Homo sapiens: one gene and its partner. The protein of the gene in region 2 interacts with the protein of the main gene of each other region in a biochemical or structural test. Each region holds a gene or a part of one and is shown on either strand. Other genes may lie near its edges.

Region 1 (2,905 bases), on a different chromosome or scaffold from region 2:
CTGCAACCTCCACCTACCAGGTTCAAGCGATTCTCCTGCCTCAGCCTCCCGAGTAGCTGGGATTACAGGTGCATGCCACCACTCCCGACTAATTTTTGTATTTTTAGTGGAGACAGGGTTTCACCATGTTGCCCAGGGTGGTCTCAAACTCCTGACCTCAGGTGATCCACCCACCTTGGCCTCCCAAAGTGCTGGGATTACAAGCACGAGCCACCACACCCAGCCAAGATTTGAGCTTTGGATTCAAACTGAACAGAGGCTGGGTGTGGTGGCTCACGCCTGTAATCCCAGCATTTTGGGAGGCTGAGGTGGGAAGATCGCTTGAGACCAGGAGTTTGAGACCAGCCTGGGCAACATAGCAAGAACCCCATCTCTACAAAAAAATTAAAAATTGGTCGGACATGGTGGCATGAGGAGGCTGAGGTGGGAGGATCGCTTGAGACCAGGAGTTGGAGGCTGCAGTCAGCTATGATCACACCACTGCACTCCAGCCTGAGCAACCCTGCCTCTAAAAACAAACAAAAAATGGAATTGAACTGATCGGATGGCCTAGGAGGTGGGTTCTATTATTGTTCCCATTTCACAGATGAAGAAACTGACTTTGTCTGACTCCAAACATTCTGCTTATGCTCCATGCTGACAACCACTTTACAATGAATGAATCAACTGGAAAGAAAAGATTCATGAAGGGGTTCCCCTAAGAAGCTGGCACTCCCTGTGCCTCTGGAACACGGAGTCATTCTGCAGATGGGCTGGGTGAGGTCTCCAGCCCTGGAAACTGCACATTCCTCAGCTTCCCATTTCACCGAGGGCACTAGAGCTCACCCCACTGTTTGGTAGATACAGGGTGATGCTCTAAAATGAACCCACCATCCAAGTCTCTGCTTCCCCCTGAGCAAGAACAGGGGAGCCTGTGGCGTCCCGATGCGCGTCGGGCACTGGCTGAGCACTTCTCACGTGCTGACCTGTCTAATCCGCACCGCCAGCCTAGGAGCCCGTGAGATCATTGTCTCATTCCACAGATGAAGAAACTGAGGCTGAGAGAGGTGGGCTGACTTGCCTGAGATCGCCTGGTGGAAATGAACTCTGCTCGGGCCTCTTGGGGCCTCAGTGGCTCCAGAAATTGCAATGGGTAGACGACGCTGGAGCAGCAGGGGCCCCGAGCCAGTGGGGACAGTTCCGCCCTGCCATCCTGGCCCCACTGCCCCAGCCTCACCTGAAGCACCACCTGCGGTCAGGAGTGCCGTCCGAGCTCTTGCCCACGGTGACCATCTCCCCAGAGCGGAAGGCCTTCCTCAGGAATACGGGGAAGGAGCGCTCAATGTCCAGGATGGTGGTGGCCCACTGCGGGGAGGGAGGGTCAGGAGGGACATCGGTGAGCCTCACAGCCTGCGCCTGCCGCTCTGGTGGCAGAAATGAGACAACGGGCCAGGGTGGGCCCAGAACTAGGCATTTAGACTCCTACTCCCCACTAGACACAGGGTTTATAAACTCAAATACCCACAGGTGGCAGGCAGGAAAACAAATGGGTGAAACAGGATCAGGTGCAGAAAGGCTGCCGCCCAAGCCCTATCACACTTACACAGCAGTTGCCTCTCAGTGAGGGAGGGGTAGAGACTGGGGAGAACAGGGAGCAAATGCCCACGTGTAAGGGGGCAGCTGCCACTCACCCCACCTGAGGGCTGCCAGGCAGGAATCCGGACCCTGCACTGCCTGGAGCTTCCAACTTTTCAAGAAAAGCCAGAAATCTGGGTTTTCATAGGGAATCTCTTAATTTTTAAATTTTGCAGTTTTTTGTTGTTGTTGTTGTTTTTAATATAATGGTCTGATGCTGGGTGCAGTGGCTCACACCTGCAATCTCAGCACTTTAGGAGGCCAAGGCAGGTGGATAGCTTGAACTCAGAAGTTCAAGACCAGCCTGGGCAACATGGTGAAACCCCATCTTTACAAAAAATACAAAAATTAGCCGGGTGAGGTGGTGCACACCTTAGCCCCAGCTACTCGGGAGGCTGAGGACAGAGAATCACTTGAGCCTGGGAGGCAGAGGTTGCAGTGAGCCAAGATCACACCATTGCACTCCAGCCCACAGGATGCCCAGTTTGCATCCTGTGAGTAATGCCCAGTGGGGAAACTGAGGCCCAATGAAGTAAGCAATATAGATAAAGGTTAAGAGCAGGCCAGAGCTGTTTCCCTCAGACCCAGTCCTGGGAGGACAACCTTGGGCCCTTTTTTCTCACTGCACCATTTTCCTGAAATGCACAGTCAAGGTAAACACGGGTGCTGTATTCCTGGGCCGTGGGGCAGCACTGTTTATTAGGACACCAGGTTTGTAGGCTGCACCTGGCCTGGGAGGGCTGTGATCCCAGGGCCTGTTCTTTCCAGGATTGCATAGAAAGCTTTTGGTAAGTAAAAACTTTCTGCAGCTCCCCGGGCCAAGGCGGCCCCTGTCCCCATTGGTTTCTCCTCTAGGAAGCATGCTCACAGTTGCTAGAAAAAGACCCCCATGAGAATGCTGACATCCCTGTGCTGGAGTGCTAGAGCACAAAAGCTGCCCCTGGGCTCAGCGTGGGACCCCTGCTGAAACGCTGATGCCCACGGAGCACTTTCTGAGCCGGCAGAAGTCACTCAGTCATGCTAGGTGGAGCCGACTGTGTCCTGTGAGCTGGACCACAAGGAGAATCTGAGCCCACTGCTGGCAGCCAGGCAAGAAGCCACCTCAAAATTCACTAGGCAGCTCTGGGAAGTCAGCAGCAGCCTCTGATGCCCATTTTACCGACAGAGAAGTGGAGGGAGAATGAGAAGACACTGCTTGCTCAGAGTGGAAGGCCGAGGAAGCCAGTCGGGTGGGTCTCCTCGGAAGGACGAGGGTGGCTGGTAGAGTGGGGCTGGGGGCCCTGGGGCCTCA
Region 2 (3,189 bases):
CTCTGTCGCCCAGGAGGCTGGAGTGCAGTAGTGTGATCTTGGCTCACTGCAGCCTCTACCTCCCGGGTTGAAGTGATTCTCCTGCCTCAGCCTCCCAAGTAGCTGGGATTACAAGTGTGTGCCACCACACCCGGCTAATTTTTTATTTTTTATTTATTTTTTAGTAGAGACGGAGTTTGACCCTGTTGGCCAGGCTGGTCTCGAACTCCTGACCTCAGGCGATCCGCCCACCTCAGCCTCCCAAACTGCCAGGATTACAGGCGTGAGCCACCGTGCCCGGCCTGTTTTTGTGATGGGGTCTTGCTTTGTTGTCCATGATGGCTTCCAACTCTTGGGCTCAAGAGATCTTCTTCCTTCAGCCTGCAGAGTAGCTAGGATTACAGGTGCAAGCCACCGTCCTAAACTTGGACCTGCTTTTTAACTTGAGGAGCACAGGCACCACAATCTAGCATCATAGCTCTCACTTGACCTCCCTTCCCCCTCCACACACACAAAGAACAGACAGGTATCAAGGCTGTTTATTGACTCTTCGCAGCCAGCGGCTCTTCCTCTGCCCCTCTGGGATGCCTAATCCCCGTCTCCCCCCTGGAGCCAAGTGGAGTGGCTCTGAGCTTGACCCCAGGCGCCTTCCTCTTGCCAGGCTTCCCTGCCCCGCAGCCTTGGCCTTCCTGGTTTGCCACAGGGGCTGTTACTCCTTTGATTCTACATCCTCCTCGAAGTGTGTGAGGTAGGCCATCTGAGCCGAATCGCGCGAGCCATAGAGAGTGTTCATGCTGTAGGAGCTGCCATGGAGGCACAGGGCTGCAGGCAGGAAAGGCGGGCGTGAGGCTGTGCTGGCGGCGCCTGCGCCCGGCTTCCCTCGTCCCACACTCACCTTTGGTAACATTGACTGTGTTGGCCGCCAAGATGTCCGCCTGAATGCTGTCTATTTTCATGTACAAGTCCTCAGCGTTGCTCTGAGGACAGGAGCAAGGGGGACCCGGCTGGGGTGCCAGGGCAGTCTGGACTTGGAGTTGGGCTTGGCAGAGGGATGTTGCAGGTGGGGGGCGGGTCGGCAGCCTGACCGAAAGGGCAGGAAAGGGAACAGGAAGGTGGCGGGTGGAGGAGCCTACGCCAGAGCAGTCCCTCCTGCAGCTGGTGGCCAGGTCCACTCTGCATGTGGCGCGCTCCAGGATGGGGACTGTCTGAAGGGGCATCACACTGTCCGAGCCGCCATCTGCTCATTGCGGCGGGGCAGGAAGGGCGCACTTACCAGGAAGAGCTGGTAGAGTTCCTCCCCCATGCACTTGCGCACGTGCTCCGCCACCAAGGGGAACATCTGCACGAAGCACTGCGCCGCGCGGGCGAGGCGGCGTGACTGCGGGGGCGACGGGGCTGCGGGTGCCGCCGCCCTTCCCGCCCCCTAACCAGCCGCCGCGCGCACCTCCAGCGTGAGGCTGGCCAGCCGCTGGCTGTTGCTGTGGTCCGTGTTGCCCATGGCGGCCATTAGGCCACGCACCACGCGCAGGTACAGCAGCTCCTCGGCGATGCTCATGTCGTTGCGCGCCAGGACCCTGGGCCGGGGGTTCGGGCTGGGGCGACGCCCTGGGGCTCACCCGGCGCACACCCCCGCCCACCCGGCGCACGGAGCGCTCCCGGGGCCCGCCGGCAGCGCCAAGCCAGGCTTGCTGCAGCTACCCACTAACCCCTGCCCGCTTACCCGATGGCCTTGGCGGCCGCGGCCTGCTGCAAAAACATCGGCAGGCTGGGGGTGAGCTGGAGAACCGAGGGGTCTGAGGAGGGGGCAGCCGTGAGGCAAGAGACCGCCCTCCCGTGGCCCAGGCAGCCCCATTTGAGCAGGTCCTTACCACTGAGGATCTTGGCCTGCAGTTTGGAGATCTCCTTGACCGACGGTATCAGCAGCGCCACGAGGCCCTTGAGCAGCGCCTGGCGCACATCGTAACCGACCAGGTCTTTGATCAACTCGATGGCTGCGGAAGGGCAGAGGTGCTGGAGAGAGGCCCCAGGCCCCTCCGCCACCGAGGAAGCAAAGAACCCCGTGAACCAAGTCGCCACTCGTCAGTGTCCTCCTCTTTTACTGATCAGCACTGTGCAGGGCGTGGGGGAGCTGGGAAGGCGAACCTCAGTTGAAGAGCAGGAGGAGGGGGCTGAAGGGGGAGGAGGAAGGGTTGGATGGTGAGCCCACCTGTCGAGGCGGCCTAGGATGTCAGCGCTGGAGGCTGAGACCCCAGAGAGGGGGGCCTTCGCCTTGGAGGAATCCAGGTTTCATGGAGGAGGGAAGGGCTGGGTCTTTACGGGAAGACAAGATGGAGAAAGACAAGGGGTGAGAGGGAGACAGAGAAAGTGGGTGGGAGACTTGTGGCAGGAAATGAGAAAGGGGAAGGAAGGTAGGCGGCAGTTTAGAGAAACTCTCCTTCTAACCATCATCGAGCCCTCTCCACCAGGCAGGGTGCCAGGCTTTCCATACAGCACCCGTGGAAGCTCACCAGAACCAGATGAGGTTCACTTCCCCATTTTACCTTTGCCGAAATTAGACACAGAGAGGTAAACCACTTTGCCTAAGTTACACAGCTAGGAAGTGATGGAAGCAGAAGGAGGGGAGGATTTGGTTAGGAAGGAGAAGGGGACTAGAATTTATGGAGGGCATTTCCTGCAGGGCTTTCCTGTAGATATTTTACAGGCAGTCATTCATTCAGTCCAGCATTCACTCAGTCTTTCGGCACGGCTGCATGTGAACGCCTATGGTGCCAGGCGCGGCATTGGGTGTTGAGGATACAGACTGAATTCATTCATTCGACCAACCCTCCTTAAGCGTGCACAAACAGGCAGCGATGATATGGTGACAGGTGCTGTGGAAGGAGTCAGTGATTGGGCTGTGGGAGCACAAGAGAAAATCGGCAAGGATTGAATGTTTTTGTAAAGAAGAGAAAGGAACCACAGAGCTAGAGGGGGCAGGAGGAGAAGGAGATGCTAAGATGATGGCACACCAGCATAAATGCTACCTTTTTTTTTTTTTTGAGACAGAGCCTCACTCTGTCGCCCAGGCTGGAGTGCAGTGGCGCGATCTCGGCTCACTGCAACCTCCGCCTCCTGGGTTCAAGCAATTCTCCTGCCTCAGCCTCCCGAGTAGGCTGGGATTACAGGCGCCCGCCACCACACCCGGCTAATTTTTTTTTTTTTTTTTTTTTG

What was found. The genes of interacting proteins can lie anywhere in the genome.
Region 1: the proteins of ARMH1 (region 2) and TRPV4 interact in a test that uses a peptide from one of them, tested with the Homo sapiens proteins (one large-scale study listed by BioGRID).

Annotation. Positions count from the first base shown.
Region 1 is NC_000012.12:109,785,494-109,788,398, forward strand, and holds part of TRPV4 (transient receptor potential cation channel subfamily V member 4), read right to left. Parts: intron 1,404-2,905; coding exon of another isoform or gene 1,383-1,403; exon of another isoform or gene 1,345-1,382; coding exon 1,217-1,344; intron 1-1,216. UniProt on the Homo sapiens protein: Non-selective calcium permeant cation channel involved in osmotic sensitivity and mechanosensitivity. Activation by exposure to hypotonicity within the physiological range exhibits an outward rectification.
Region 2 is NC_000001.11:44,722,903-44,726,091, reverse strand, and holds the end of ARMH1 (armadillo-like helical domain containing protein 1), read right to left. Parts: intron 2,058-3,189; exon of another isoform or gene 1,971-2,057; coding exon 1,848-1,970; exon of another isoform or gene 1,773-1,847; coding exon 1,700-1,772; coding exon of another isoform or gene 1,592-1,699; exon of another isoform or gene 1,572-1,591; coding exon of another isoform or gene 1,554-1,571; coding exon 1,424-1,553; exon of another isoform or gene 1,331-1,423; coding exon 1,253-1,330; coding exon of another isoform or gene 1,249-1,252; exon of another isoform or gene 1,060-1,248; coding exon of another isoform or gene 957-1,059; coding exon 875-956; intron 802-874; coding exon 689-801; 3' UTR 501-688; downstream 1-500.